Linked DNA regions of Homo sapiens. The protein of the gene in region 1 binds, or shares a complex with, the protein of each later gene. Each region holds a gene or a part of one and is shown in the gene's direction. Other genes may lie near its edges. The genes, in order: USP4 and SART3.

What was found.
Region 2: the proteins of USP4 (region 1) and SART3 are in contact, whole or in part, in a crystal structure (PDB 5CTR), measured with the Homo sapiens proteins. Residues at the interface, in NP_003354.2 of Homo sapiens: Met24, Thr27, Leu28, Ser53 (codon at 1,513), Trp54 (codon at 1,516), Glu123, Gly125, Leu126, Phe127, Val128, Lys129, His130, Cys131, Lys132; in NP_055521.1 of Homo sapiens: Asp437, Ser438, Ser439, Lys440, Gln490, Arg493, Glu494, Trp496, Asp497, Met500, Thr501, Ala505, Trp511, Tyr514, Lys529, Arg533, Cys537.

The regions. Positions count from the first base shown.
Region 1 is NC_000003.12:49,320,755-49,337,053, reverse strand, and holds part of USP4 (ubiquitin carboxyl-terminal hydrolase 4), read left to right. Parts: intron 1-1,457; coding exon 1,458-1,585; intron 1,586-9,237; coding exon 9,238-9,368; intron 9,369-11,208; coding exon 11,209-11,335; intron 11,336-12,014; coding exon 12,015-12,160; intron 12,161-12,290; coding exon 12,291-12,352; intron 12,353-16,299.
Region 2 is NC_000012.12:108,541,875-108,558,173, reverse strand, and holds part of SART3 (spliceosome associated factor 3, U4/U6 recycling protein), read left to right. Parts: intron 1-8,959; coding exon 8,960-9,086; intron 9,087-10,182; coding exon 10,183-10,287; intron 10,288-12,850; coding exon 12,851-13,035; intron 13,036-13,641; coding exon of another isoform or gene 13,642-13,695; coding exon 13,696-13,747; intron 13,748-15,021; coding exon 15,022-15,146; intron 15,147-15,329; exon of another isoform or gene 15,330-15,362; coding exon of another isoform or gene 15,363-15,404; intron 15,405-16,299. UniProt on the Homo sapiens protein: U6 snRNP-binding protein that functions as a recycling factor of the splicing machinery. Promotes the initial reassembly of U4 and U6 snRNPs following their ejection from the spliceosome during its maturation.

The DNA.
Region 1 (16,299 bases):
CTCGGCCTCTCAAAGTGCTGGGATTACAGGTGTGAGCCACTGCGCCTGGCCTTGTGTGTACATTTTTGGAACTCCTTTGGTCCTTAAAGGAAAACTGAAGTGGGTGGTGTTTCTAACCCATTTTCAGAAAGAGCATTAGTTTAGTGCTGTTCATGTCAAGCAAAACAGTGTAACCAAACTGTCTGCCTGGAGTGGGACTTCTGTAAAGATCATTATGAAATTAATGACTTGTGGCCGGGTGCGGTGGCTCACGCCTGTAATCACAGCACTTTGGGAGGCCGAGGTGGGCAGATTACCTGAGGTAGGGAGTTTGAGACTGTCCTGACCAACATGGAGAAACCCTGTCTCTACTAAAAATACAAAATTAGCCAGGTGTGGTGGCACACACCTGTAATCCCAGCTACGGGAGACTGAGGCAGGAGAATCACTTGAACCCGGGAGGCGGAGGTTGCGGAGAGCCGAGATCACACCATTGCACTCCAGCCTGGGTAACAAGAGCGAAACTCTGTCTCAAAAAAAAAAGAAGTTAATGACTTGTTTATTAGCAAACATGATTTTACCCATGAAAAGACTCCATTTAGACTGAGTGTGGTAGCTCATGCATGTAATCACAGCACTTTGGGAGGCCAAGGCAGGAGGATCACCTGAGATCAGGAGTTCGAGACCAGCCTGGCCAACATGGTGAAACTCCATCTCTACTAAAAATACAAAAAAATTAGCTGGGCCTGGTGATGCATGCCTGTAATCCCAGCTACTTGGGAGGCTGAGGCAGGAGAATTGCTTGAACCCAGGAGGTGGAGGTTGTAGTGAGCCAAGATCATACCACTGCACTCCAGCTTGGGCAACAAGAGCGAAAACTCCGTCTCAAAAAAAAAAAAAAAAAAAAAAGAGGCCAGGTGCAGTGGCTCATGCCTGTAATCCCAGCACTTTGGGAGGCCGAAGTAGGCGGATCACCTGAGGTCAGGAGTTTGAGACCAGCCTGCCCAACATGGTGAAACCCCGTCTCTACTAAAAATACAAAAATTAGCTGGGAGTGGTGACAGGTGCCTGTAATCCCAGTTAGTCAGGAGGCTGAGGCAGGAGAATCGCTTGAACCTGGGAGGCAGAGGTTGCAGTGAGCCAAGATTGTGTCACTATACTCCAGCCTGGGCGACAGAACAAGACTCCGTCTAAAAGAAAAAAAAAGAAAGACTGCATTTAAATAAGCATTTTGAAACCACTTGTTTTCTTTCTTTTATTCACTCTTTGAACAATCATTTCACTTAATGGATGCATACCCTGGGCCAGACTCTCTGTGCCATGTGGGGCCTGGGCCCTGCTCTTGCTCTTGTGACAGTGTTTTTTAGTGGGTATTGCATATGCCCCAAGTGGAAGGACCATAAAAAAGATTAAGGAAGCAGCTGCAGAAATTTATAATCTCAGCTTTTCTGCTACAGTAAATTTCTGTCTCTCTCTAGGTATCTTATTGACAGCCGGTGGTTCAAGCAGTGGAAGAAGTATGTGGGCTTTGACAGCTGGGACATGTACAATGTGGGTGAACATAACCTATTTCCTGGCCCAATAGACAACTCTGGGCTATTTTCAGGTATAGTAAATGTTGCTTTTCTAGCTAAACATTCACCTGGGCAGTGGCCTGATGTTATGTGCATCTGTAACATGGACGTTGTGAACTTTCCTAGTGTGAGGAGATAGAAACAAGTATCCTCATTTTGCATCTATAGCAGAAGTCTTTGCAAACCCTTAATGAGAAGTTAAGCTACTTTTTTCCCTTAAATTAACTGCATCTGATAAGAGTATGCTTCTAACATTTTAACTTTCTCTCTTTGCAAATTAGTTCTGCTAGCTATTTCACATTTTAAGTTAGTATATGGAATGGAAAGAAATAGGATGTCATTTTGAAATTGTATCTAAAATTTAAGAACCAGAATTTTTTGTTACCTTTGCAGTGGAACAAATTGTAAACCTGTGAACTTTCATCAAGAATTCCTGTGATGGCTGTTTTTATCATATAACTAGTGTGAGGAGAGGTTGAAGGTCAGTAGACAGAGTTATGACTGTAGTCAGCTCCCAATGGGAACTGTGGGAAAAGCGACATGTAACACACTAGAGCTTGCTTGCACTTGTACATGCACTGAGATGACAGAGTCAGCTTTTCCCAGGCTTTCTTTTGCCTGACTTCAGACCTCTTTAAAGTCATGATAGAGGTGATCTGTCATGGGTGTCAAAAATCAGGGCAGTGCCAGGAGTGGTGTCTCACGCCTGTAATCTCAGCACTTTGGGAGGCCAAGGCAGGTGGATCACCTGAGGTCAGGAGTTCGAGACCAGCCTGGCCAACATGGTGAAACCCCGTCTCTACCATGTTGGCTAGGCTGGCCTTGAGCTCCTGGGCTCAAGCTATCTTCCTGCCTCAGCCTCCTTAGTCACTGAGACTACAGTGTTCTACCACTCTCAGCTGTTTTTTAAGTTTTTTGGTAGAGACGGGGTCTTGCTATGTTGCCCAGGCTGGTTGAACTCCTGGCCTCAAGCCATCCTCCCACCTTGGCTTCCCAGAGTGTTGGTGTGAGCCACTGTGCCTGGCCTAACTTGGATATTTTTAAAACTGAGCAATGCTTCAGCTCAGACCTTGTTTTAGGAGAGGTCTACATGGTATAAACAATATCATTTACTTTGTTTCCTGAAATAGGTCAAATGGTGGCACTATGCCACGAAGTTGCCCTAAGGAATCATTTCATTATGTTCACATTTTGTTCTTTTTCTCATTTTTATGAAATGGAGAATTCTTAAGGTTTTAAATTCAGGCATACTTTGGCTTATTGTGCTTTGCTTTATTATATGTTGCAGATACTGCATTTTTAGCAAATTTTGTAGGTATTTGGCAACGCTGCCTTGACAATCTGTCAGTTCCATTTTTACAACAGCATGTGCTCACTTCATGTCTCTGTTACCACATTTTGGTAATTCTCAAAATACTTCAAAGTTTTTCATTATTATTTGTTATGGTGATCAGTGATCAGGGAGCTTTCTTTTTTTTTTTGAGACGGAGTTTTGCTCTTGTTGCCCAGGCAGGAGTGCAGTGGCATGATCGTGGCTCATGGCAACCTCCACCTCTTGGGTTCAAGTGATTCTCCTGCCTCAGCCTCCCGAGTAGCTAGGATTACAGGCATGTGCCACCACGCCCGGCTAATTTTGTATTTTTAGTAGAGATGGGGTTTCTCCATGTTGGTCAGGCTGGTCTTGAACTCCCGACCTCAGCCTCCCAAAGTGCTGGGATTACAGGCATGAGCCACCATGCCCAGCCAACAGGGATCTTTCATGTTGCTATTGTAATTGTTTTGGGGCATCATGAAGGGAGCCCATGTAAGACAGTGAACTTAATTGGTAATTATTGTGTGTATTCTCGCTGCTTCACCAACCAGCCATTCCATCTCTCTCTCTCTCCTCAGGCTTTGCTATTGCCTGAGACACAATGACACTGAAATTCGGCCACTTAGTAACCCTAACAACGTCTTCTAAATGTTCAAGTGAAAAGGAGAATTGCATGTCTCTCACTTCAAATCAAAGCTAGAAATGATTTGAGTTTGGTTAAGGAAGCCGAAATAGGTTGTAAGCTAGGCCTCTTGTGCCATATAGCTAGCCAAGTTGTGAATGTAAATGTAAACCTCCTGGACTTAAGTGATCCTTCCACCTCAGCCTCCTGAGTAGCTAGGACTACAGGTGCTTGCCAGCATTCCTGGCTCATTTTTGTATGTGTTTATTTTTTCTTTTTGTAGAGATGGAGTTTTGTCATGTTGCCTGGGAGATGGAGGAACCCAGGAAATGGTGGTTTCAGTGAGCTGAGATTGCGCCACTGCACTCCACTCCAGCTTGGGCGACAGAAGTGAGACTCCATCTCAAAAAAAAAAAAAAAAAGTGCTACTCTAGTGAACACATGAATTATAAGAGGCTGAAACAGCCTTATTATTGCTGATATGGAGAAAGTTTATTCATTTATTTTTTTTTTTGAGACAAGGTGCCATCTTGTCTCAAAAAAAAAAAAGGTAGCTACTGCTACCTCGTGCAGTAGCACAATCACACCTCACTACAACCTTGACCTTCCCAGGCTCAGGTGATCCTCCCATCTCAGCCTCCTGAGTAACTGGAACTACAGGCCCCACCACACTCGACTAATTATTGTATTTTTTGCAGAGATTTTTTGTGGGTTTTGTCATGTTGTTCAGGTTGATCTTGAATTCCTGGGCTCAAGCAATCCTCCCGCCTTGACGTCCCAGAGTGCTGGGATTACAGGTGTGAGTCACTGTGCCCAGGCTAAACAACAGGTTTTATTTTATTTTATTTTTATTTATTATTATTATTTTTTTGAGACAGAGTCTCACCATGGGGTTTCACCATGTTGGCCAGGCTGGTCTCAAACTCCTGACCTTAAGTGATCCGCCTGCCTCGGCCTCTCAAAGTGCTGGGATTACAAGCATGAGCTACTGTGCCTGGCCTAAACAACAGATTTTAAATGTAGACAAAACACCCTTCTATTGGGAAGATGCCATCTACCTCTTTGCTGCTAGAGGGGAAAAGTCAGTGCCTGGGTTCAGAGCCTTTTTTTTTTTTGAGACAGGGTCTTGCCCTGTCACCCAGGCTGTAGTGTGTGATCACAGCTCACTGCAGCCTTAACCTCCTGGGCTCAAGTGATCCTCCCACCTCAGCCTCCTGAGTAGCTAGGACTACAGTTGCTTGCCACCATGCCTGGCTGATTTTTATATGTTTGTTTGTTTGTTTGTTTTGTAAGACAGAGTCTCGCTCTGTCGTCTAGGCTGAAGTGCAATGGCACAATCTTGGCTCACTGCAACCTCCACCTCCCAGTTTCAAGTGATTCTCCTGCCTCAGCCTCCCAAGTAGCTGGGATTACAGGTACCTGCCACCACACCCAGCTAATTTTTTTTTGTATTTTTAGTAAAGACGGGATTTCAGCACGTTGGCCAGCCTGGTCTCGAACTCCTGACCTCAGGTGGTCCACCCGCCTTGACCTCCCAAAGTGCTGGAATTACAGGTGTGAGCCACTGTGCCCAGCTTTGTATTTTTTTTTTTTTTTTGTAGAGATGGGATTTTGCCGTGTTGCCCGGGCTGGTCTCCAACTCCTGGGCTCAAGTGATCTGTCTGCCTTGACTTCTCAAAGTGCTGGGATTATAGGCATGAGCCACTCTGTCCGGCCAGATTCAGAGCCTTGAAGGACAGGCTGACTCTCTTCTTAAGGGATACTGCAGATGGTGACTTTAGTTTGAAGCTAGTGCTCATTTATCATTCCAAAAATCCCAAGGCCCTCAAGAATTATGCTAAATCTGCTCTGCCTGTGCCCTACACATGCAACAACAAAGCCTGCATGATAGCATATTTATTTACAGCATGGTATACCGAATATTTTTGTTTTTATTTTATTTTTCTGGGACAGAATCTCGCTGTGTCGCCCAGGCTGGAATGCAGTGGTGCAATCTCGGCTTACTGCAACCTCTGCTTCCCGGGTTCAAGTTATTCTCATGGCTCAGCCTCCCAAGTAGCTGAGATTACAGACATGCACCACCAGTTCTGGCTAATTTTTGTACTTTTAGTAGAGATGGGGTTTTGCTATTTTGGCCAGGCTGGTCTCAAACTCCTGGCCTCAAGTGATCCACCCGCCTTGACCTCCCTAAGTGCTGGGATTACAGGCATGAGCCACCACAACAAGTTTACCGATTTTTTTTTTTTTGAGTCGGAGTTTTGCTCTTTTGCCCAGGCTGGAGTGCAATGGTGCGATCTTGGCTCACCACAACCTCTGCCTCCCAGGTTCAAGCGATTCTCCTGCCTCAGCCTCCTGAGTAGCTGGGATTATAGGCGTGCGCCACCACGCCCAGCTAATTTTGTTTTTTTAGTAGAGACGGGGTTTCTCCTTGTTGGTCAGGCTGGTCTCGAACTCTCGACCTCAGGTAACTGCCCACCACGGCCTCCCCAAGTGCTGGGAGTACAGGTGTGAGCCACCACGCCCGGCCTCCCAATATTTTTTTTTTTTTTGAGACGGAGTCTTGCTCTGTCACCCAGACTGGAGTGCAGTGGCGCGATCTCGGCTCACTGCAAGCTCCGCCTCCCGGGTTCACACGATTCTCCTGCCTCAGCCTCCTGAGTAGCTGGGATCACAGGCGCCTGGTGCCTGCCACCACACCCGGCTACTTTTTTTGTATTTTTAGTAGAGACGGGGTTTCACCATGTTGGCCAGGATGGTCTCAATCTCCTGATCTCGTGATCCACCCATCTCGGCCTCTCAAAGTGCTGGGATTACAGGTGGGAGCCACCGCGCCCGGCCTCCGGCCTCCAGCCTCCAGCCTCCCAATATTTTTAGCTCAGGGTTGAGACCTACTGCTCAGAAAAAGCACTGAGCTAATCTTATCAAAATGTTACTGCTGCCAGGTGCAGTGGCTTACGCCTGTTATCCCAGCACTTTGGGAGGCCAAGGTGGGCGGATCACGAGGTCAGGAGATTGAGACCATCCTGGCTAACATGGTGAAACCCTGTCTCTATTAAAAATACAAAAACAAAATTAACCGGGTGTGGTGGCGGGTGCCTGTAGTCCCAGCTCCTCGGGAGGCTGAGGCGGGAGAATAGCATGAACCCGAGAGGTGGAGCTTGCAGTGAGCCGAGATGGCGCCACTGCACTCCAGCCTGGGGGACACAGCGAGACTGTCTCAAAAAAAAAAAAGTTACTGCTCCATTGCAATGTACCTAGTTACCCAAGAGCTCTGATGGAGATGCATGAGGAGATTAATGTTGTTTCATGCCTACTAAAAACATCCGTTCTGCAGCCTGTGAGTCAAGAAGTAATTTCAACTTTTTTTGTTTGTTTGTTTGTTTGTTTGTTTGTTTTGAGACAGAGTCTCACTCTGTTGCCCAGGCTGGAGTGCAGTGGCTCAGTCTTGGCTCCCTGCAACCTCTCCCTCCCAGGTTCAAGCAATTCTCCTGCCTCCTCCTACCAGGTTCAAGTAATTCTCCTGCCTCAGCCTCCTGAGTAGCTGGGATACAGGTGCCCGTCCCTCCACCTGGCTAATTTTTGTATTTTTAGTAGAGACCAGGTTTCACCATGTTGGCCAGGCTGGTCTCAAACTTCTGACCTCAAGTGATCCTCCCGCCTCAGCCTGCCGAAGTGCTGGGATTACAGGCCTGAGCCAGCGTGCCTGATTTGATTTCAACTTTCAAGTCTTATTATTTAAGAAATACATTTTATAAGACTTTATCTGCCATAGATAGTGATTCTCCTGAAGGATCTGGGCAAATTAAATTGAAAACCTTTTGGAAAGGATTTACCATTCTAGATGCCATTAAGAATATTCATGATTCCACCTGGTGCAGTGGCTTATACCTATAATCCCAGGACTTTGGCAGGCTGAAGTAGGTGGATCCTTTGAACCCAGGAATTGGAGACTAGGGTGGGCAACTTGGCAAAACCCCATCCCTATAAAAAATACGAAAATTAGCTAGGCCTGGTGGCATGCACCTGTAGTTCTAGCTACTTGGGAGACTAAGGCAGGAGGATTGCTTGAGTCTGGGAGGTCGAAGCTGCAGTGAGCTGTAATCATGCCACTGCACTTCAGCCTGGGTGATAGAGTAAGGCCTGCCACTCCCACCTGCCCACACACACACACAAAAATATTCATGATTCATGGGAGGTCAAAATCAACATTAATAGGAGTCTGGAAGAAGTTCATTCCAACACTTACGGATGACTTCAACGGGCTCAAGACATCAGTGGGAGAAGTAACAGCAAAAGTGGAAATAGCAAGAGAACTAGAATTAGAAGTGAAGCCTGAAGATGTGACTGAATTGCTTTATTTTTTATTTTTACTTTTATTTTTATTTTTTTTGAGATGGAGTTTCGCTGTGTCACCCAGGCTGGAGTGCAGTGGCGCAATCTTGGCTCACTGCAACCTCCGCCTCCTGGGTTCAAACAATTCTCCTGCCTCAGCCTCCCAAGTAGCTGGGCTACAGGTGTGCACCACCATGCCCAGCTAATTTTTGTGTTTGTAGTAGAGACGGGGTTTCACTACCCTGGCCAGGCTGGTCTTGAACTCCTGACCTCATGATCTGCCCACCTCGGCCTCCGAAAGTGCTGGGATTACAGGTGTGAGCCACTGCGCCTGGCCTATTTTTAATTTTAATTTTTATTTATTTTTATTTCTTTTGAGACAGAGTCTTGCTCTGTCACCCAGGCTGGAGTACAGTGGGGTATCTCGGCTCACTGCAGTCTCCACCTCCTGGGTTCAAGCAATTCTTATGCCTCAGCCTCCCGAGTAGCTGGGACTACAGGCATGCATCACCATGCCCAGCTAATTTTTGTATTTTTACTAGAAATGGGGTTTCACCATGTTGGCCAGGCTGATCTTGAATTCCTGACCTCAAGTGATCTGCCTGCCTCAGCCTCCCAAAGTGCTGGAATTACAGGCATGAGCCAACATGCCCGGCCTGAATTGCTTTAATCTTATGATAAAACTTGAATGGCTGAGGAGTTGCTTCTTATGGGTGAGCAAAGAAAATGGTTTCTTGAGATGGAATCTATGTCTGGTGAAGATGTTATGAGCATTGTTGAAATGACAACAAAGGAACCCTGCCCTGAAAAAGGTGTGTAAACTAGTCGGAGGGATGGTGGGAAACCATAACCACCTCATGTATGATTTATTTATTTTTGAGATGGAGTCTTGCTCTTTCACCAGGCTGGAGTGCAGTGGCGTGATCTTGGCTTACTGCAACCTCTGCCTCCCGGGTTCAAGCAATTCTCCTGCCTCAGCCTCCCGAGTAGCTGGGACTACAGGTGCCCGCTACCACACCCGGCTAATTTTTATATTTTTAGTAGAGACGGGGTTTCACCATGTTGGCCAGGCTGCTCTCAAACTCCTGACCTCATGATCCAACCGCCTCAGCCTCCGAAAGTGCTGATTACAGGTGTGAGCCACCACACCCAGCCTGGAGTTTTTCTTTTTTATCCTCTTCTCTCCCTCCAATTATAGAAGAAATACAAATTCCTCATAAAATCTTCATGGATAAAGAGAAAACATGGATAAAGACAAAAGTCTGCTCTGTATAATGACCAGTGACAGAATTTTGGAATTTCATTCCTGTTTCTTTCTGTAAATAATTTTCTTATTTCTGAAAAGTACATGGAAATCATGTAAAACCATCATTTCTGGGGTAAAGAGCAGTGACTTATGTGCTCTTTTCCTTTTTTAGATCCTGAGAGTCAGACCTTGAAAGAACACTTAATTGATGAATTGGACTATGTATTGGTCCCTACCGAGGCGTGGAATAAACTACTAAACTGGTACGGCTGTGTAGAAGGCCAGCAACCCATCGTCAGAAAAGTGAGTTATGTGAATTGTCCCACCTGCTGGTCACTGTCTGCAGGTGCTTTCTGTTGGACACTGACTAGTGTTTGCTAGGAAAATGAACATACCTCAGTGGTTGAATAGTGGTGCTTGAGGCCTTGTTTCTGGATCTCTTTTTTTTTTGAGATGGAGTCTTGTGCACTTGTCGCCCAGGCTGGAGTGCAACGGCACGATCTCGGCTCACTGCAGCCTCTGGCTCCCAGGTTCAAGTGATTCTCGTGCCTCAGCCTCCTGAGTAGCTGGGATTACAGGCGCCTTTCACTACGCCTGGCCAATTTTTGTATTTTTAGTAGAGACGGGGTTTCGCCATGTTGGCCAGTCTGGTCTCAAACTCTTGACCTTGTGATCCGCCCGACTCGGCCCCCCAAAGTGGTGGGATTACAGGCGTGAGCCACTACGCCCAGCCTGTTTCTGGTTCTCTTTAGGAAATTGTGGTTGTGAGTGAAGTTGCTCACCCAGAATATTATCATGAGTGGCCTCTAAACATCAGAGCTGCCCAGTGGCTTGGAATGTGCCCAGCAGCGCTGTGAGAGAACTTTCTGGAAAATTCTATGAGAGAAAGTTCACTGGGGGCATATGGACATATAGCTAATGTCCTGCATCTTGTTTATCTTAAAAAACCTTTATGATACTGCTTTTCCCTCTATGCTTAAGAGTCTTTGAGCTAGGCGCAGTGGCTCACATCTGTAATCCCAGCACTTTGGGAGGTTGAGGCGGGTGGATCACGAGGTCAGGAGATCAAGACCACCCTGGCCAACATGGTGAAACCTCGTCTCTGCTAAAAATCCAAAAATTAACTGGGTGTGGTGGCACATACCTGTAGTCCCAGCTACTCGGGAGGCTGAGGCAGGAGAATTGCTTGAACCCAGGAGACGGAGGTTGCAGTAAGCCGAGATCACCCCACTGTACTGCAGCCTGGCAACAGAGTGAGACTCGGTTGCAAAAAAAAAAAAAGAGTCTTTGATCAGGCCGTGCATGGTGGCTCACGCCTGTAATCCCAGCACTTTGGGAGGCTGAGGCAGGCGGATCACGAGGTTAAGAGATCGAGACCATCCTGGCCAACATGGTGAAATCCTGTCTCTACTAAAAATACAAAAATTAGCTGGGCATGATGGTGGGCCCCTGTAGTCCCAGCTACTCGGGAGGCTGAGGCAGGAGAATCTCTTGAACCCAGGAGGTGCAGGTTGTAATGAGCTGAGATCGCACCACTGCACTCCAGGCTGCTGACGGAGGAAGACTCCATCTCAAAAACAAAAAACAGTGAAGAATAGGCTTCTCTCTAATATCATCAAGATGCTCTTGGTCTTAGTGGGTAGAAAAAAAATATATATATATTTTTTTGCGGGGTACAGAGTCTCGCTCTGTCGCCCAGGCTGGAGTGCAGTGGAGCGATCTTGGCTCACTGCAGCCTCCACCTCCTGGGTTCAAGCGATTCCCCTGTCTCAGCCTCCTGAGTAGTTGGGATTACAGGCACATGCCACCATGCCCGGCTAATTTTTGTATTTTTCATAGAAATGGGGTTTCACCATGTTGGTCAGGCTGGTCTCAAATTCCTGACCTCAAGTGATCCACCCACCTCGGCCTCCCAGAGTGTTGAGATTACAAGCGTGAGCCACCACACGCGGCCAGAAAAAATATTTTTAAACTCTTTGTCCAGGTACTGGTAGCTTTAAAAATCTGTTCTTTTGATCCCTTGATCAGTAAAGGAAATGGATTATCATGAGTTTTCTGCTTTTTGCTTCTGATAAGATATGCTACATCCAAGACTGCCCAGCTGCAAAACCGCTATGCCCTCACCCCTGCCTCTTGTTCATAGGTTGTGGAGCATGGCCTGTTTGTCAAGCACTGCAAAGTCGAGGTGTATTTGCTGGAACTGAAGCTCTGTGAGAACAGTGACCCCACCAATGTGCTGAGTTGCCATTTCAGCAAGGCAGACACCATTGGTGAGAGGCTGGGCTGGGGTCCCTGGTATGTGGTGAGAGAGTGTAGGACATTGTGGCTGATGGGAGGGAAGAGGGCATTATTTTATATGCCCTCTTTAGATTTGTTACCCAAATCATCTCGAGCTGTAGTTGCCAGTCCTGACCTGGGGGCCTATTCCTCCAGGAATTCTTATGGAGAGAACACTGGGCCTGCTCCTTGCCCATTTGTCTATGATAATGAAGATAAGGAAATGTAGATCCAAAGAAGTTTAAAAATAACTTATTTAAAAATCTCAGCAAGGTTTACAGTGAGCTACGATCCCACCACTGCACTGCAGCCTGGGCATCAGAGCAAGATCCTGTCTCTTAAAAAAAAAAACAAATCGCAGCCAGAAAATGGTGGAGCTAGCTTTTGAAGCCATATCTGAGTTAACTCCAAAGATAAGCTTTCTCGCTTTCTATGTTGCTTTTGCGCCATAAATGAGAGACACACGTTAGCAAAGAAGCATAGGGATACTTTCCAGGCATATGAGTGCAAGAGGCCACCCATGGGAGATGATTGATTTTAAGAGGTATCAGGGGGTTGATCCAGAGCACCTGTGAGCATCTGACAAGAAAGAGGATGAGCATTAGTTTGCCATGGCTGTCTTTAGCCTTGCATGTGGACAAAGCCCCAAGTGATATTTCTGCCTGTTCCTAGCAACCATCGAGAAAGAGATGCGGAAGCTATTCAACATCCCTGCGGAGCGTGAAACACGGCTCTGGAACAAATACATGAGCAACACCTACGAGCAGTTGAGCAAGCTAGACAACACTGTCCAGGATGCTGGGCTATACCAGGGTCAGGTAGGAGGGCCCTGGCCATTCCCCAGCAGGTAGCTCTGCCCAGGGTGTGTGGCCAGATACTTTTTGCTTCTAAGCATGTTGGAAGTGCGGTGGTTTGAACTCTCCTCATTTGGTTTCCCCTTTCACTCAGGTGCTAGTAATTGAGCCTCAAAATGAAGATGGCACATGGCCCAGGCAGACCTTGCAGTCAAAGTAAGTGAATTTTTTCTCCCTTGTTGTAGGCTCACATGTGCAAAAGAGACAGTCTTTCCTAAGGCAGTACTTGTACTAAGAAAAATTGTTCTGATTCAGATGAACAATGCCTATTTTGTATATCCAGAGTTCATGCTTCTGGATGAAGACCGTGGCTTTTGGTAGCAGGGCAGCATCTAAGGGAAGCCTGTCAGGATATCTCAGCAAGGTGGCGAGCCTCTGCTCGTGGAGAATGAGAAAAGGAGGAAGGGATATGAGGGATCAAGTCTAAGGTTGCTGCTCTACCAGGAGGTTGCTTTGTTTTTGTCACGCTTTTATTTTCTCCACATGTAGTTAGAGGCCTTGATGGATAAGAGGAAGGCTAAGGCATGGGGTTTTATATGACTTAAAAGTGATAGTTGAGGCCTGAGCATGGTGGCTCATGCCTGTAAGCTCAGCACTTTGAGAGGCCGTGGGAGGTGGCTCACCTGAGGCCAGGAGTTCGAGCCCAGCCTGGTCAACATGGTAAAACCCTGTCTCTACTAAAAATACAAAAATTAGCTAGGCATGGTGGCAGGTACCTGTAATCTCAGCTACTCGGGAGGCTGAGGCTCAAGAGTCGCTTGAATCCAGGAGGTGAAGGCTGCAGTGAGCTGAGATCGCACCATTATACTCCAGCCTAGGTGACAGTGCAAGACTCTGACCCAAAAAAAACAAAAACAAAAAAAAAGTGATAGCTTGATTCTACCTGTTTCTGCCCAGTGGCCTGTTACTCATTGTTGCCCTGGGAGCTTGCTGGGTGAATTGTTCAGCTACAAAACTTGGACTAAGGACACATCTGTTTCAAGAGATGTTCATGTGGTATGTGGAACTGTGCATGTTCTTAGGGAGATAAAGAAGTGATTAATTTTCGTTATGGTATAAGTTTTGGAAATTATATCTGTGTTCCAGTAGTTATGGGAATAATGTTGCGCTCTGTCCTTTTCCCTCTGTCAGGCCTTGGACTGTGACCATTACATAGTAGTGGGCTCCTAGGTCATTTGAGAACCATGAAAACTATGAGTTCTTAAGAGAAGAACTGTTAGAACCCCTGAAGTCCAGTCATGGACTCCAGTTTAAGAAACCCCGGTTGCCAGTTGTTGACAAGATAAATAAAATAGCTGTGGTAGGCATAGCTGTGCTCATCTTCACCCTGAGATATCCATATCCTAATTCCCAGAATCTGTTTCAGAATCTGTCATTATGTCAGGTGACATGGCAAAAGGGACTTTGCAGATGGGATTAAGCACAATGGTGAGTGCCTGTAGTCCCAGCTACCTGACAGGCTGAGGTGGGAGCATTGCTTGAGTCCAGGAGTTTGAGGCTGCAGTGAGCTATGATTCTGCCATTGCCCTCCAGCCTGGGCGACAGCAAGACCCCATCTCTTTTTTTTTTTTTTTTTTTTTTTTTTTAAAAAGGCCAGGAGCAGTGGCTCATGCCTGTAATCCCAGCACTTTGGGAGGCCGAGGTGGGCGGCTCACCTGAGGTTGAGAGTTTGAGACCAGCCTGACCAACATGGAGAAACCCTGTCTCTACTAAAAATGCAAAATTAGCCAGGCGTGGTGGTGCATATCTGTAATTTCAGCTACTTGGGAGGCTGAGGCAGGAGAATCGCTTGAACCCGGGAGGCGGAGGTTGCAGGGAACTGAGATTGCACCATTGCACTCTAGCCTGGGGAACAAGAGCGAAACTCCATCTCAAAAAAAAAAGAATGTCTGTTCACCAGTGAGTGAAGACAAGCCATAAGCCATACAGTGAGAGAAGAGATTTGTAATCCATGTCTGACAAGTTGTGTCCAGAATTTTTTTTTCTTTTTTTTTTTTCCCTGTGACGGAGTCTTACTCTCTTGCCAAGGTTGGAGTGCAATGGTGCGATCTCAGCTCACTGCACCCCCACTCCCGGGTTCAAGTGACTGATGCCTCAGCCTCCCGAGCAGCTGGGACTACAAGCTCCCACCACCATGCCCAGCTAATTTTTGTATTTTTAGTAGAGACAGGGTTTTACCATGTTGGCCAGGCTGGTCTTGAACTCCTGGCCTGTAGTTATCTGCCTGCCTTAGCCTCCCAAAGTGCTGGATTACAGGCATGAGCCACCACAGCTGGTCGTATATCTAGAGTTGCAAAGAAATTCCTACTAGTCAATACAAACAAGTCAGGCAACACTAGTAAAAAAAAGAGGCAAAAATGTAGAATTATATGCACATTCTGCTACTCAACAATCCTGTTGTTAGGCATATAACCAATAGAAATATATCCCATGTTCTCTTAAATACATATTTCAGGATGTTTGTGCTAGCACTGCTTGTCATAGTTACAAACTGGAGCTAACCCAAATGTCCATCAAAAGTAAATGGATAAACTGCAGTAAGTGTAAGCACACAAGGAAATTCTGTCCAGCTTTGCACAACAGTGATGAGTCTAATGAAAAATGATGAATGAGAGAAGGTAGACACAGAGCAGGGCATAATGATTCTGTTGACTTAAAACTTTATAACAGGCAAAATTAACCTTGGGGATTCATGGTCAGAACTGGTTAGTGTTGGGAAGAATTGCGACTGAATCGTGAGAAGGACACCTAGGGGTCTGGGGGTGTCCTGTTTCTTGGTCAGGGTAGTGGTTACATGGATGTATCACTTGGTGCAAATTTCTTGATTTTATACACTCAGGGGTTTTGTTTTTTTGTTTTTTTAATAGACGGAGTCTTGATCTGTAGCCCAGGCTGGAGTCCAGTGGCATGATCTCGGTTCACTGTAACCTCTGCCTCCTGGGTTCAAGCAATTCTGTGCCTCAGCCTCCTGAGTAGCTGGGATTACAGGTGCATGCCACCCATGCACAGCCAATTTTTGTATTTTTAGTAGAGACGGGGTTTCACCATGTTGGCCAGGCTGGTCTCGAACTTCTAGCCTCAAGTGATCCGCCTGCCTCGGCCTCCCAAAATGCTGGGATTACAGGCATAAGCCACGGCGCCCGGCCAAAAAAAATCAATAATAGGCCAGGTGCGGTGGCTGGCCAACATGCTGAAACCCCATCTCTTAAAAAATAGAAGAAAATTAGCCCGGTGCAGTGGCACATGCCTGTAATCGTAGCTACTGGGGAGGCTGAGGCATGAGAATGGTGGTGGGGATTGCAGTGAGCCTAGATCGTGCCACTGCACTCCAGCTTGGGCGATACAGTGAGACTCTGTCTCAGGAGAAAAAAAAAAAAAAGGTACAATAATAATCAAGGTTTAAGAAAGCAACTAGTATCTATAATATTCCAGAGATAAATTCTGGGTAATTCCAACATAGGTGAGGAATTAGTATAGAGCAGAGAGAGATGAGAATGTCCAGAACTACTATTCTTGAGGATGAGAAAGGTGAACAATTGTAAGTTTATGTAATTTATGGGGAAAAATAAAAATAGAGATCCTAATAAGTTAATGGAACAACTAACAGAAACGGAAAATTGAATGTATAACTTTGAAACATACTACGTCAGTTAGGAAAGGCTTGCTGGCAGGTAAGAAAAATCTGCAAATTAGCGTATTAAGCAAGATGGAGGCTTACATCTTTCTGAAAAGAATTTCTGACGTAGGCAGTCAATCCATTGCTGACGTAGCAGCTCCATGGCAATATTAAACCCAGCTGACCTACCCCTTCCTTTTTAGGACATTTCTCAGATATCATACATCAAACCTCCTTTGTATCTCATTGGCTAATCATATGACAATACCTGGCTTTCAGGAAGGCTGGGATGTACTGTATAGCAGGACTGCATCATGTCCAGCTAAAAACTGGGGTTCTCAAACTAAGGAAGGAGGGGAAAATAGCTAGCAGGAGGCGACTAGCAAACTGCCACACCTGCAAAAGGAAAATTAATGGAAGGCAAAAATGAAGGGGGGAAAAAATAAGAAGTATGGTAATTAGAAAGCATGTTAGAACATGTGGAAAA
Region 2 (16,299 bases), on another chromosome or scaffold:
TTTTTTTTTTTGAGAGCATCTCACTCTTGCCCATGCTGGAGTAGTGGTGTGATCATGGCTCACTGCAGCTAGGACCTCCCAGGCTCAAGTGATCCTCCCAGCTCATCCTCCAAAGTATCTCGGACTACAGGCATGCACCCCCATGCCTGGCTAATTAAAAATATTTTTTTTTTGTAGAGATGGGTTCTTACTATGTTGCCCAGGCAGGTGCTGAATTCCTGAGCTGAAGTGATGCTCCTGCCTCAGCCTCCCAAAGTGCTCGGATCACAGGCGCAAGCTACTGCACGTGGCCTTGATTATATTTTATGGTAGCTGGCAGTTTGCTGTGGTATCTGTCTAACAAAAGCAAATATTTTCCATTATATGTGTTTGTGCGCTGAAATTAAAAGTGGCACTTCATGGTGGCTTCGGCAGATTTGTCAGTGCAGCAGTACGGAGACTATGGCTTTGCAACCCTGAACCCAAGCCTTCCATTGAGTAGTGGAAAGGCCTTGTACAAGTTATTTCAGCTCGCAGAGTCTTGGGTGTCCCAGTTAGTAAAATGAAGGTTGTAATAGTGCTTTCCTCATGGGACTGTTGTGGGGCATGGCACAATGTGCGTAAAGCGCCTGGCACAGTTTGGCGCATAATAGGTGCTGCTCCATTCTCCCTTCCCTGCCTTTGATTGCACCAGTTGTTTTCTTTCCATCAGTCCTCTCTATTATTTCTCCCCCATTCTAGTACAGCTAGGTATAACACATTTTTCACATTGCTAGGGAGTTAAATCAGTTAGCAGATCATTTTGTGATTGGTTAAGTTTCCTTTAAAGCATCTATGTTGTTAATCCCAGCTACTCGGGAGGCTGAGGCAGGAGAATCGCCTGAACCCGGGAGGCAGAGGTTGCAGTGAACTGAGATCACACCACTGCACTCCAGCCTGGGTGACAGAGCAAGATTCCACCTCAAAAAAAAAAAAAAAAAAAAAAAAACTATGTCATTAATGATGTTCTAAGACCAGAATAGACCAGCATATGTACTCATTTATCAGTATAGATTGAACTATGTGGAAATAGCTCTTTTAAGTGCATTTCAGTATGTATTTAATATATGTACTTTCAGAGTACTTGTCCACATATAGTATCTTCATCATTTTACCCTAAAAATCAGAAGTTTACACCAAAAGCCACACCTTAAAAGTCAGCTTCTTGACTTTAGCGACTTTTATACCTTTTTCTTCTGCTGATCCACACATGGTGTTCATGTGAGGGGCACTTGCATGCATAGATATTCGTGACACTGACTAGCAAGTGCTCTCCCACTCCTGTTTGTGCTCCGCAAGCACACTCTATTGAGTTCAGACTGGTGATGTGGTGGGGAGAGCCTTGAATGTTCTTTAATGAAGAAAGTGTATCCTTCTCAAACTTCACTTCTCAAACATCCCAAACTGCGGTTACTTTGTGTGACACACTTGATAGGTGATTTTGAAACATCAGTGTGTCATGATAGCCCATTTAAGAACCAGAGCTTTAGCCCAGCTCTTTCATGGTACAGATGAGGAAACAGAACAAGTGGGGATTAGAACACTTGTGTCCTGATCTGGTCCAGTGCTTTTCAGCCTATCGTGTGATCATCGGATGAGTTCAGCTTCTCAGGTTTTATGAATCATAAGCAGGAGAACATTGCTAAAAGTCTTAAGATTTAAAACTTAGAGATCATGTTCTTATCTGTAATTGATTATTATCTTTTGGCATGTAATTTGATAAATACAAAGCAGTTCACATCATGTACAAGAGTTTCTCACCAGATGCAGTGGCTCACACCTGTAGTCCTAGCATTTTGGGAGGCTGAGGCAGGATGATCCCTTGAGCCCAGGAGTTTGAGACCAGACTGGGCAAGATGGTGAGACCCTGTGTTTACAAAAAATAAATTTAAAACATTTAGCTATGTGTGGTGGCATGAGCTTGTAGTAGCAGCTACTCAAGAGGCTGAGGCGGGAGGATCACTTGAGCCTGGGAATTTGAGGCTGCAGTGATTTGTGACTGCCACGGCACTCCAGCCTGGGTAAGAGTGAGACCCTGACTCAAAAAAAAAAAAAGAGAGTTTCTCAAAGTCACTGTTTTTCAACCTGGGGGTCATAGTCATAGGTTGTGAATTTATTTTAGCTGAAACAGCAAGTGCCACCTGAGCCATAGTGTTTTTCAACTGCATGGGTCTGTTTTGGGCTCTCTCTTCAGTTTGTCTATCCTGTGCCAATTCCACTGATTAACTTATTGCTAAGGCTTGCTATCTGGTAAGACAAATCCTCCTACCTGCTTTTTTTCTTTCCTTGCAGGGTGTTTTGGCTCTTTCATATAAATTTTAGAATTATTTTGTCAAGGTCTGTGAAAAACCCTGTTGGTTTTTTTATTTGAATTGCATTGAATTTATGGATTATTTAGGGGAGAATTGACGTCTTTGCCATAATGATTATTCTAACCCAGAACATGCATATAACTCCATTCGTCTAGGTATTGAATATTCTTTCTATTTTTGAGACATGGTCCTGCTCTGTTTCCCAGGCTGGAGTACAGTGGCATGATCTCAGCACACTGCAACCTCCGCCTGCTGGGCTGAAGCGATCCTTTCACCTCAGCCTTTCGAGTAGCTGGGACCACAGGCATGTGCCACCAGACTCAGCTAATTTTTACAGTTTTTGTAGAGACGGGGTTTTGCCCTGTTGCCCAGGCTGGTCTTGAATTCCTGGACTCAAGTGATCTGCCTGCCTCGGCCTCCCACAGTGCTGGGATTACAGGTGTGAGCCACCGCCCCCGGCCAAGTCTTTAATATCTTTCAATCAAGTTTAAAAACATTTTGCCATAGAGGTCTCACACATCTTTTGTTAGATGTATTTCTAGGTACTTTATAGTGCTTGATGTTTATGCTATCCTATTTAAAATTACATTTTAAAGCTTGCTGGTTTATAGAAATGTAATTTTTTTATTGTAAAAAACATATAACGTAAACTTTGCTATCTTATTCTTAAGTGTATGGTTCAGTAGTGTTAAGTATAGTCACATTGTTGTGAAGCAGATCTCCAAAGTTTTCATTTGCATATATACAACTCTACCAATTAAACAGCTCTCCTTCTCCTTCCTTCCCAATCCCCTGATAACTACCATTGTAGTTTTCTGTCTCTATGAATTTGACTAGATACTTCATATAAGTGGAATCATACAGTATTTGTCTCTTTGTATATAATTGATTTTTATACATTGCTCTTATTGCTTGTCACTTTGCTAATCTTGTTTATTATTTCCAAATGATTTGTTTGTAGATGAGTTTTGGTTTACTATACATTGATATCATCTGACCATAATTAACAGTTCTCATTCTTTTCTCTATATCTGTTTCTTTTCCTTGTCTCATTGTTAAAACCCCAGACCTCCAGTACAGGGTTAAATAGAAGGCAATACTGGGAAGTTTTTTGTGTTTTTTAAAAGGAATTTTAATGTATTATTAAATTTACTAAATATAAATATATAAATATATAATAAACAATATAATAAATATATAAATATGTTATTAAAATATATTTATTGCAGATTTTAAAAATCAGGTTAAGGAAGTGCCTTTCTATTCCTAGTTTGCTAATTCTTAATTTTGACTCATGAATGGATGTTTTAATCAAATGCTATTTCTTCATTGAGGTAATCATGTTTTTTTCCCTCAAATCTGATGGTGGAAAAATTATACTGGATGATTTTGTAGTGTAAAAACACCCTTGCATTCCTGGGATAGACCCAAATTGATCATTATGTATTGTTCTCTTTATACATTTCTGATTTTTTAATATTTTATTTAGGATTTTTGTATTAATGCTCTTGAGTGAGATTGACATGTAATTTATTGAATTCTGTGTGCCAGGTAGGTAAAGAATCTAACCAAGTCAAGGATAAGACATACAAGGTACTTATCCCATGAAGCCTTTAGGTCATGATGGAAATAAACACGATGATGAGATGGAAAACAGCTTGCAGCATATAGGGGGCTACTTAAGAAAGAGTGGCATAGGAGGGGGGCCGGGGGCGCCCTCTGAGGAAGTGAAGTTTATACCTGAAGTATGAAAAGGGGTGGCTAGGCAGAGAGAAGGTGAGAGATCCTTCTGGGCTGAAGGAGCAGCAGGTGCCTAGCCCTGAGGTTGGAGAGACGTTGGAATGTTTGAGTTACACGAAGCTGGCTGCCATGTTGAGAGGCCGGTGGTTTGAGATGTAGCTGGAGAGATGAGCCCAGCATGCTGGGATTGCACATGAGGCAGGGATTTGCAAATTGTTCCTAGGATACTGGGAAGCCATGGAAGGGTTTTACTATTATAATTAGTAGAGAAAGATAATGAGTTCTTGTTTAAAATCTAAACACTTGAACAAAACCCCGTAATCCTTCATATTTGTATTCTCTGAATGGTTGGTCCTTGTCCCCACTCCATTTAAAGGTTCACTGGCTACTTCATTGTTAAGATTTTTATCCTAAAGTTCAAGTAATCATATTCATTGGCTGTCTTTCTGTATTTTAATTAAATATCTAGTACCTGGATTATTAGGGTATGTTGTCAGATGGTAGAGTGTAATTTGAATGAAGTGTAGGTAATCTTTTATCTCTGGAGAGGGAAATATTCCTAAAATGTGGCAGATGTTGGAAGAGTAGATACTAATGAAGTCTTGGTGTACAGACTTAAATTATCCCTATATCCCAACAAAAGCTTTTTAAACAATTCGCCTTTTTATTTTGAGATAATTGTAGATTTCCATGCACTTGTAAGAAATAATAGAGATTTTTCGTGTACTTTTTACCCAGTTTCCCTCAATGATAACACTTTGAGGAACTATAATATGTAATAACCTGGGTATTGACATTGATATAGTCAAGATACAGATCAGTTCTGTCACCTTAAGGATCCTTGATGTTGCCTTGAAATTTTTCTCTTGTCCTAACATTTTGTGATGTTATATTTACATTTCACATTTAAGTGTGATCCATTTTGAGTTATTTCTGTAAGGCGTGAAGTTTAGGTCAAGGTGTATTTATTTGTTTTGCCTGTGGATATCCATTTGCTCCAGCATCATTTTTTGAAAATGCCTTTTTTTTTCCTCTGTTGCATTGCGTTTGTCAAAAATTATTTGGGCATATTTGTGTGGGTCTGTTACTGGGTTCTATTCTCTTCATCTATGTATCTTTCTGCCATTCTCACACTGCCTTGATGATTGTAGCTGTATTGTAGGTTTTAGTATCAATCAGGTAGAGTGATTACTCCCACTTTATTCTTTTTCAAGATCATTTTTAGCTATTCTAGGGCCTCTGCCATCCCATATACATTTTAGAATAAGCTTGTCTAGGTCTACAAAAAACCTTGTTGGGATTTTAATTGGAGTTTCAGTAAGCCTGTAAGTCAGTTTAGGGAGAATTTACTTCTTGACTATGTTGAGTTTTTCAATCCATGAACATGAAGTGTCTCTTTTTTTAGGTCTTTGATTTCTTTCCTCAGCATTTTGTAATTTTCAGCATACAGATTTTGTAAACTTTTTAAATATACACCTAATTATTTAGGTTTTTTGGAGTGATTGTAAATGGTGCTATGTCTTTAAATTTGGTTTCCACATGTTCTTTTGTTTTTTTTTTTGTTTTTGTATGTTTATCTTATATTCTGTGACCTTGCTCAGTTCACTATTTTTGGAGTTTTTTTTTTTTTTAATTGGTTCCTTAAGATTGTCTACTTAGCCATATCATCTACAAATCAGGACAGTTTTATTTTTCCGAGCTGTATAGCTTTTATTTCTTTTCCTTGTCTTATTGAACAGGCTAGAACTTATAGGACTTTGTTGGAAAAGAGTGGTGAGAGCAGACATCCTTGCCTTGTTCTTGATTTTAGGAGGAAAGTGTTCAATCTTTTACCATTAGGAATGATGTTAAGGTAACCCTATATCCCAACTTATGGGATAGATTTTTTATAGATGCTCTTTATCAGGTTGAGGTTGTTTCCCTCTATTCCTAACATGCTGAGTGTTTTAACCATGAATCGTTGTTGGATTTTGTCACATGCATTTTCTGCATCTATTGATACCATGAGTTTTCTTTAGCCTTTTGATACACTGGATTACAGTAATTGATTTTTAAATGTTGAATTAGCCTTGCAAACCTGGAATAAATACCACTTGGTCATGGTGTATAATTCTTCTTATACACTGAATTTAGTTCTTTAAATTTTCCTCCGTACTGTTTTAGTAGCATCCTACTTATTTTGATTTGTTGCAATTTCATTTTCATTCACTTTTTTTAATTTGTAAATTTTCTTGGAGACTTCCTCTTTGACCTGCAGATTATTTAGAAGTGTATTACTTAATTTTCACGTGTTCAGAGATTTTCTTACTGTTAGTGGTTTCTAATTTGATTCCATTGTGGTCACAAAACATACTCTGCATGGTTTTCATTTCTCTTAAATTGTTGAGGTTTGTTTTATGGCCAAGGATATGGCTTCAGTGAATGTTCCGTAAGTACTTGAGAAAAATACATATTCTGTATTGTTGGGTGGGCTGTTCTCTATATAAATTAGGTCATGTTCGTTGACGGCGTTATTGAGTTCTTCTATAACCCTGTTCTGCCTAGTTTAAAAAAAAATTAAACAATTTCCTTTCTTTTTAAAAACTTAAAAATTTTTTAATTTGCTTTTGTCTAATTTTCTTTTTCTTTTATTCATCTTCTTTTTGACCAGGTTCAACATATTCAAGTGTCTAGTAGTTTTATCAGTTGCTGAAAAGGGAGATGTTGAAGTTGCCAAATGTAATTGCTGCTGTGTCTCTTTGAGCTCTGTAATAGTTTTTGCTTCATGAATTTTCAAGCGCTCTTTGGTTCCTACACATTTAGGATTGTTATGTCTTCCTGGTAGATTGATCTATTTATTATTATGTGTCATTATATAATCCTTTTTATCTCTAGTAATTTTCTTTGCTCTGAAGTGTACGTTATGTGATATTAATATGTCCGCTTCAACTTTTTAATTAATGCTTGCATGTTATCTTTTTCTCTCCTTTTCCTTTCAACCAGTTTACCTGTGTCTTTGAATTTGAAATGAATTTCTTGTACTCACCATATAGTTGGGTTGTGTTTTTATCCACTCTACCATTATCTACCTTTTAATTAGCATATATGCACCATTCGCATTTAAGGCAATTGTTGGTTTATTCAGACCAAAGCCTGCCGTTTTACTATTTTCTGTTTATTTTCTGTTTCTCATTCTTCTGTTTCTCCTTTCTTGCCTTTCTGTGGATTATTTGAATATTTTTTAGATTTTCATCTTGATTTATTTATTTATTTTTTTGAGATGGAGCCTTGTTTTGTCACCCAGGCTGGATCTCTGCTCACTGCAACCTCCGCCTCCCGGGTTCAAGCAATTCTCCTGTCTCAGCCTCCTGAGTAGCTGGACTACAGGCATGTGCCACCACACCCAGCTAATTTTTTGTATTTTTTGGTAGAGACAGGGTTTCACCATGTTGGCCAGGCTGGTCTTGAACTCCTGACCTCATGATCTGCCCGCTTTGGCCTCCCAAAGTGCTGGGATTACAGGTGTGAGCCACCATGCCCAGCCATCTTGATTTATTTAAGGTGATTTTTAGTGTAATTGCTTTGAATAGTTTTCTCAGTGGTTGCTTTGGGTATTAAAATATACGGAGTTGACTTACATGGTATCCGTGTTTTACCACTTGAATGAAGTGAGGGAATCTTCCATTTCAGTTCTCTTTCCATCCCCACTTTTAAATAATACTGTGTTGGGTATCAGAAGTTCTTACAATGTTTGTTCCATTACATATGATTTAGAAAGCTCATGAGGAGAGGAGGATAATCTGTCGTAGTTCCCGTATTTCTGCTCTTCCTGTTCTTTCTTCCTTTTTGATGCTTTAGGATTCCTTCTTCTAACTTTTCTGTTCGAAGAACTTCCTTTAGCTATTCTTCAAGGGTAGGTCTGCTAGTGACATTTTTTTCATTTTTCTTTGTCTCAGATATATGGTAACTTAAAATAATTTTAGTTTGAAAAGTTTCAAATGTACAAATAAAACTTTATGTACCTGTCACTCAGCATCAACAGATACCAACCTGCTGCCACTCTTGTTTCTCTAATAGGGATTTCTATCTTTTTTTTTTTTTTTTTTTTTTTGAGATTGGGTCTTGCTCTGTCACCCAGGCCTAGAGTGCAGTGGTGTGGTCTCGGCTCGCTGCAACCTCTGTCTCCCAGGCTCAGGTGATCCACTTCAGCCTCCCAAGTAGCTGGGACCACAGGTGCATGCCACCATGTCTGGCTAATTTTTTGTATTTTTGGTAGAGATAGGGTTTGACTGTGTTGCTGAGGCTGGTCTCGAACTCCTGAGCTCAAGCAATCCACCTGCCTCGGCCTCCCAAAGTGCTGGGATCACAGATGTGAGCCACCACAACTGGCTTCCATCTTTTTTATTTAGTAAAATAAAAGAGGTCTTACAGTGTACCTCACATGTGCTAAAGGACGTTATGAAATTACCTTTTTATTTTTTAGTTTTTCTTAAAGACCAGTGTAACAGTAGAAATTTTTTAAATCCTTGGAAGACCTGGTATGAGCTAGAAACTAGTAGTGTCCTCATTTTATAGATGAGGAAATAGAGCTTAGGAAAGTAAATAACTTACCTAAGGTCACATACTTTTTATTTGTTTCATTAGAATGCCTCCTTTATTTCCAAGAGAACCCAAATGTCTTCTAACAGGAACTGTAACAGATTTGAGGGAGCTTTATGTTTGTTACAAAAGCCTCTTTTATTGTTTTGTCTTCTACCTGTGGGTACGTGCTGGGTTGCTGTTTCAGTGGTTTTCTCAGATAGCACGTTTATTTTGTTTGTGGCAGGTATATGTGTAGTTACCAGTAGTGACAAAAGCTAAGTTACTTGATGACGGTGTTTTAAATTTCAACTTGTTTCTTTTCCTGTTAGTTGTCTATCAACGTCTATGACTACAACTGCCATGTGGACTTGATCAGACTGCTCAGGCTGGAAGGGGAGCTTACCAAGGTGAGGATGGCCCGCCAGAAGATGAGTGAAATCTTTCCCTTGACTGAAGGTAAGCTTCAGCAGTCAGGCTGCTTTTAGAAACAGAAACAAGGCTTGCACATTTTTTACAATGTTGAAAGTGGGACATGCTCCTTGTAGAAAACCTGGAACGTTCAGTGTAGTGGAAAGAAGAAAACGCATCAGAGTTAGCTATTTTTAGTTTATTGTAGTTTTTTGCAAAATGTAGTTATGATCATATAACACGGATTTTGAATTCTGATTTCTTTATTCTAACGTTGTGGTAAACATTTGTAATGTAATTAAACTTGGCTTTCATTTCTGTATTTCCCATTTCACTATTTATGTATTTAAACCATTCTCTTGAAACCAGAAAATTGTAAATATATTTAAACTTTTACAGACAGTTTTTTATGTAAATGTTTCATACATTAATTGTTCCAGAATAGTTGGGCATTTAGGTTATTTCTACTTATTTGCTTATTAGAAACATAATTGCACTGAACAACTCTGTAGTTCAATCTTCATGAATATTAATAAGTGATCTTTGGGCAGTACTTAGAACACTTTGGTCCTAGATCCCACTCTGCCCCTTTTCCCTTCTGCAAAGCATAACTGCCGAGTGTAGATGCTGGAGTCAGGTGACCTAGATTCATTCCTGGCTACATCTTTTACTAGCTGTGTGACCTTAAGCAAATTATGTAAACATTCTAAGACTCAGTTTTTCTAGCAGTTAAATGATGGCAACAGTAGTTTCTGCATTGTAATGTATGACGGTATAGGATGAGCTATTCTACGTATAACACTTAACACATGCCTGGCATGTTGTCATCCTTAGATAGATGTCATTATTATTAGTGTTACTATCACCAACCTTACAGGATTGTGATAAAGACTGAATGAGAAAAGTGCTTTGCAAAATATAAAATGCCTAACAGGTGGAGGATATTATGATTTTAGTGATTTGATCTTATTTGGAAGCATAAAACCTCCTATGTGCTTAGTTCAGGTTTTAAGAAGTGAATTTCTGGAAACAACGCCAGGTTGTGTAAGATGGATGAAACGTTTGCATGCTGATGTCTCTTGGTAAAGTCCCTGCGCTTAGCCTACCCTTTGGTATTAATGCGGGAAGTATTTTTGTCTCGTAGAGCTCTGGCTGGAGTGGCTGCATGACGAGATCAGCATGGCCCAGGATGGCCTGGACAGAGAGCACGTGTATGACCTCTTTGAGAAAGCCGTGAAGGATTACATTTGTAAGTTCCCGTGGACTTTTTTTGGATATCTGGCAATGTCATATATATCAGTCTGCTGTTGAGGACTGTATTATGAGATGTTGCTACCCAGAAAAGGGAACGTTAGTTTCACAATTAGCAAGATTTAAGTTGAGTTGTCTTATCATTGTCTTTGGTCTTTAATTGAGGAAGTTTAATTTTAAAATAAAAGTGGAAGAAGCACTTGTAGTAAGGGAATGAATACACTCACACTCAGGATTTATTGACAGTGAGAACTTACATGGTATTTCCACTGATCTTTTATACATTCAATAGGTTTTTAGAGGTTTTGGACAGGATGCTTTAAAAAAAAAGATTAAAACATTAAAAGAAAACCTTTTTATTTTGAAGTAATTATAGAGTCATAGGAAGTTGCAGAAATAGTACAGAGAAGTCTTGTGTACTCCCTTCACCCAGTTTCCTCCAATATCTTGTTTCTGTAATACAAAATCAAAACCAGGAAATTGACCTTGGAACAATGGGAAAAAAAAGACATTTTATTACATGTGTAGATTCATCTAACCACTGCTGCAGTCCAGATACAGAGCTGTTCTGTCCCCACAGAGACCTCCCTCGCCTGCTGGTATTGACATCTTACCAGTGCAAGTGAAGTATAGAAGACTCACCTCCCTTTAAGTCTCTTTACCGTCCCTTGTATATAGTATAATTGTCTTAAATATTTTCTCCATGTGAATTGGGGACCACATCAGACAATGCTGTGGACAAAATGCTTTTAAAAAGCGTTTTAAGGCTGGGTGTGGTGGCTCACGCCTGTAATCCCAGAACTTTGGGAGACCAAGGCTGGTGGATCACTTGAGGTCGGGAGTTCAAGACCAGCCTGGCCAACATGGCAAAACCCCGTCTCTGCTAAAAATACAAAAATTAGCCAGGCATGGTGGCACGTACCTGTAATCTCAGCTACTCAAGAGGCTGAGGCAGGAGAATTGCTTGAACCTGGGAAGTGGAGGTTGCAGCGAGTTGAGGTTGTGCTACTACACTCTAGCCTGGGCAACAGAGCAAGATTCTGTCTCAAAAAAAAGCATTTTAAGGCCAGGCATGGTGGCTTATGCCTATAATCCCAGCAGTTTGGGAGACTGAGGCAGGCGGATCCCTTGAGCCCAGGAGTTCGAAATCAGCCTGCCCAACATGGGGAAAACCCCATCTCCACTAAAAATACAATTAGCCGGGCGGGGTGGCATGCAGGCCTGTAATCCCAGCTACTCAGGTGGCTGAGGCATGAAAATTGCTTGAACCCAGGAGGCGGAGGTTGCAGTGGGCCGAGATTGTGCCACTGTACTCCAGCCTTGGCGACAAAGTGAGACTCTGTCTCAAAAAAAAAAAAAAAAGCATTAAAAAAATTTCCCCTTTCAGACTGGGCATAGTGGCTCACGCCTGTAATCCCAGAACTTTGGGAGGCTGAGGCAGGTATATCACGAGTTCAGGAGATTGAGACCATCCTGGCTATCACGGTGAAACCCCATCTCTACTAAAAATACAAAAAACTAGCTAGGCGTGGTGGCATGCTCCTGTTGTCCCAGCTACTTGGGAGGCTGAGGCAGGAGAATTGCTTGAACCCAGGAGGTAGAGGGTGCAGTGAGCCGTGATCATGCCTCTGCACGCTAGCCTGGGCGACAGAACGAGACTGTGTCTCAACAAACAAACAATTTCCCCTTTCAGATTTCGTACCCTCTTCCTTGTTGATTTCCCAATGGGAGCAGTCCCCCTGTGAGAAGCATTGCTACTAACCAGATAGACTGTTCTGAGATGATAGAGAATTTTTTGTGTATCTTTACAAGCCAAGAAGAATTCACAGTTTTTTGGTTTATAATCTGAATAATGAAAATAAGCGGTGTTTTATGAATATAAAACTATATTATATGTGTGTTTTTTTTTTTTTTTTTGAGAGAGAGTCTTACTCTTTCGCTTAGGCTGGAGTGCAGTGGTGTGATCTCGGCTCACTGCAACCTCCCCCCTACCCAGGTTCAAGCGATTCTCCTGCCTCAGCCTCCTGAGTAGCTGGGACTACAGGTGCCTGCCACAACGCCTGGCTAATTTTTCTATTTTTAGTAGAGACGGGGTTTCACCATATTGGCCAGGCTGGTTTCGATCTCCTGACCTTGTGGTCCTCCCACGTCAGTCTCCCAAAGTGCTGGGATTACAGGCGTGAGCCACCGCACCTGGCCAAATGTGTTTTTAAAAACTATACCTGTATCTCTGCTCTGTGGCCCATGAGTCTTCTTTTAGAGCCACTGATAATTTTAGCAGTGCATGGTGTTCCCATGATTTCTGATGATCCTGTTACCCCCTTCTTACTCTCTCACAGGCATTGTTAATAGCACCATTTATCTTTTTCTGAGGATCTATGGTCTTCCCCAGACTGTAATGTTTTTTAGTCCTTTATGGTCATCTCTGCTGTTAGGCCTTCACTGTCATTTAGTGCTGCTGTCTGAGTACTTTTTTGGTAGGCACATTTCGTTTGTTATGCATCAGTTTTGATATTTGGGTATTTTATATCCCAAACTAATTGAACACTTCTTATTTTTAGGTCCTAACATTTGGCTAGAGTATGGCCAGTACTCAGTTGGTGGGATTGGTCAGAAAGGTGGCCTTGAGAAAGTTCGCTCCGTGTTTGAAAGGGCTCTCTCGTCTGTTGGTTTACATATGACCAAAGGACTCGCCCTCTGGGAGGCTTACCGAGAGTTTGAAAGTGCGATTGTGGAAGCTGCTCGGGTGAGTACCTGTGGTTGTCTCTGAACGGGTTGGGGCTGTCTTTGTAAGTCTCCTTGGAAGGATTATTTTGAAACACATGTCCATGATGAATCTTGCAGTTCATATAGTTAACAAAATGGTCTTTGCCAATCCCTTAGTGGTGGGGTGATAGATAACCTTTTTTTATACCCCTTCTAGCATTTGGTACAATATGTATGGAAGAGGTCGTATAAATTTTTTTAGCTTGAACTGAAAATTTGTTGAGATATTTTTTGAAGTAGAAAGAACCAGAGTTGGCCAAGTGCGGTGGCTCATGCTTGTAATTCCAGCAGTTTGGGAGGCTGAGGCCAGAGGATCACTTGAGTTCAGGAGTACAAGACCAGCCTGGGCAATGTAGTGAGTCCCCATCTCTACAAGAACTAAAACATTAGCTGGGCATGATGGCGTATGCCTGTGGTCCTAGCTACTCAGGACTCTGAGGTGGGAGGATTGCATGAGCCTGGAGTGTGAGGCTGTAGTGAGTTGTGATCACACCACCACACTCCAGCCAGGGTGACAGCAAGAACCCTTCTCAAAAGAAAAAGAAAGAACCACAGTTTGTCATTTACTACTAATTTGCTTCTTTAGCCCGTAGCTGGCTTCCTTTCCCCTTTTGACCGGGAACAAACCTTTGATTCACAGCTTGAGAAAGTCCACAGTCTTTTCCGGCGACAGTTGGCGATCCCACTCTATGGTAAGAGAAACTGACATGTCAACAGCCAGCCCTCTATGGTTTTTAAAATGCTTTGGGGAACAACATGTAGTTAGACCTTTCCCACCATCCTGTGAGGCAGGTAAAGCTGGTGTTCTTACTCTCCTTGGATATTGTCTCTTTGGATGAGGTCCTTGGTAAAAACATCTTGAATGTTAGTGCTTAAGAGGGTTGTGAGGGTCAGAGGCAGGACTGGAAGCCAGACTCCCTGACTCCCAGGTGAGAGCTCTTTTCTCCTTTGAGACCTAGTTGGAAGGGCAGAGATAGGGTCTCTGAAAGGAATAGTGAATGACACCTGTATTTTTTGGGGAAACTTCATTGAACAAGAGTTCCATTATAATCATTTTCTCTTCACAAGTAACCTCTTCCATAACAGCAGGAATTTTACATGAGTTTAGATCATTCCTCTATGGGAGGGATTTGGTTCAGAAGTGCAGTTGATTGGAAGTACTCATAAGTGAGTTTCTTGGGGTTTGGTAAAGAGTTTCCTTATTTGGTAAATACATTTTGGCAATCTAAGCCTTTGAGTCTTTGGAGCTATGAGTGTGTGCGTGCTGGGAGGATTTTTCTGAGTATGGGAAGAGTTTGTCATGGCTGTTGTGTTTGTTCCCTAGACACGGGCATGTGTTGTACATACTCAGAACCTCTGGGCAACTTTACTGGAGCCCACATGTTATTTCTCTTCATGGTTTATTGGATTTAACAAGTTATAAAGTAGTCGTCTAATCAAATGGTTGGGTATCATGCAGAAAACACTAGAGCTGAGCCGGCTTGCAGATTTCACCTACCAGCGTGAAACAACCTAGCATAATGATTAGAGTGCGAACTTGAGCCAGACTGCTTGGGTTCACAGCCTTGCTCTACCATTAACTGTAGACGAGCAACTGAACCCTCTGCTTCAGTTTCCTCAACTGCAAAATGAGGATCACAATAGACTACCTTGTAGAGTGGGATGACTGAATGAGTTAGTGGATGTGAAGTGGTAGAACATAGGTAACACTGGGTAAGTGTTGTTAAATCGTTGCCACTAGTGTCATTGACTGATTAATTAGCTGGGAGGGTTGCCTGGGACATTGTTTTAAGACAGATTCTACAGACAGGTTTGGGCTCAGCAGAAATCAGAATTTGATCAGTAAGAGCTGCCATGCCACAGATGTGGGAGGGGCTAGTGGCACCTGAGTCTCATGGCTTAATCTGTGTTTGGGTTGATAAAGCCCAATGGCAAGACCCACGGGGCTGAATCCATCTTTCAATAGATATGGAGGCCACATTTGCAGAGTATGAAGAATGGTCAGAAGACCCAATACCAGAGTCAGTAATTCAGAACTATAACAAAGCACTACAGCAGCTGGAGAAATATAAACCCTATGAAGAAGCACTGGTAAGTGTTGGCTTCTTTTATAGTAAACGTCTCTCTACAAACCTTTCCCTGATGGATAGTTGCGAGTTAAACAGTATCTTTAAAATGTTTTATTCTGAAATATATAGAGTGTATAAATGTATACGTACAGTTTACATACTAATAATAAAGTGAACATCCATGTACCTACCACCCAGGTTAAGAAATAGAACATTGCCAGTACCTTAGAAGTCTCCTATGTGCCCCTCTCCGATTGCCTCCTCCTCCCTCTCCCGAGAGGTAATCACTTTCCTGACTTTTGTGATGATAATTCCCTTGCTTTTCTTTATAGTTTTACAAGCTATGAAAGTATCCTTAATTAATATATTGTTTAATTTTGCTTGCTTTTGAACTTTTATATATTGGAATCATGCTGTATATTTTATTTTCATTGAACATGCTTTTGGGTTTTACTCATGTTGCTAAGTATAACTCCGGTGCATTTGTTTTCACTGCTGTAAAGTTGTCTGTGTACTGCGATGTATTTATCCATGTTGCTGGATAGTTGGGTCATTTCCAGGTTTTTGCTAGGAGAAGGAGCAGCGCCACTCTGAACATTCTTGTGTGTATCTCCTTGTACACATGAAAAAGAGTTTCTCTAGAATACGTACTTAGGAATGACTTTGCTGGATCATAGGGTGATGTTAAAGTGTTTTCCAGGTTATCAGTTTGCACTGCTGTGAGCAGTATCTGAGAGTTCTCGTTGCTTGTGCCAATCTTGGATATTGGTCATACTTAAATTTTACTTAATTTGATGAATTTGAAATTGTAGTTTTAATTTGTATTTTCTTGGTTACTAATGAAGTTGAGCATCTTTTCACGTGGATTGGCCATTCAAATTTTTGTGCGTGTTAAAGTGTTCAGGCTGGGCACAGTGGCTTATGCCTATAATCCCAGCACTTTGGGAGGCCAAGGCGGGAGGATTGCTGGAGCCCAGGAGTTTGAGATCAGCCTGGCAGCGTAGCACAACCCTGTCTCTACCAAAAAAAAAAAAAAAAAAAAAAAAAAAAAGCCGGGCTTGGTGGCATGTGTCTGTAGTCCCAGCTTCTCCAGAGGCGAAGGTAGGAGGATTGTTTGAGCCCAGGAGGTCAAGGCTGCAGTGAGCTGTAATCATGCCACTGCATTGTCACCTAAG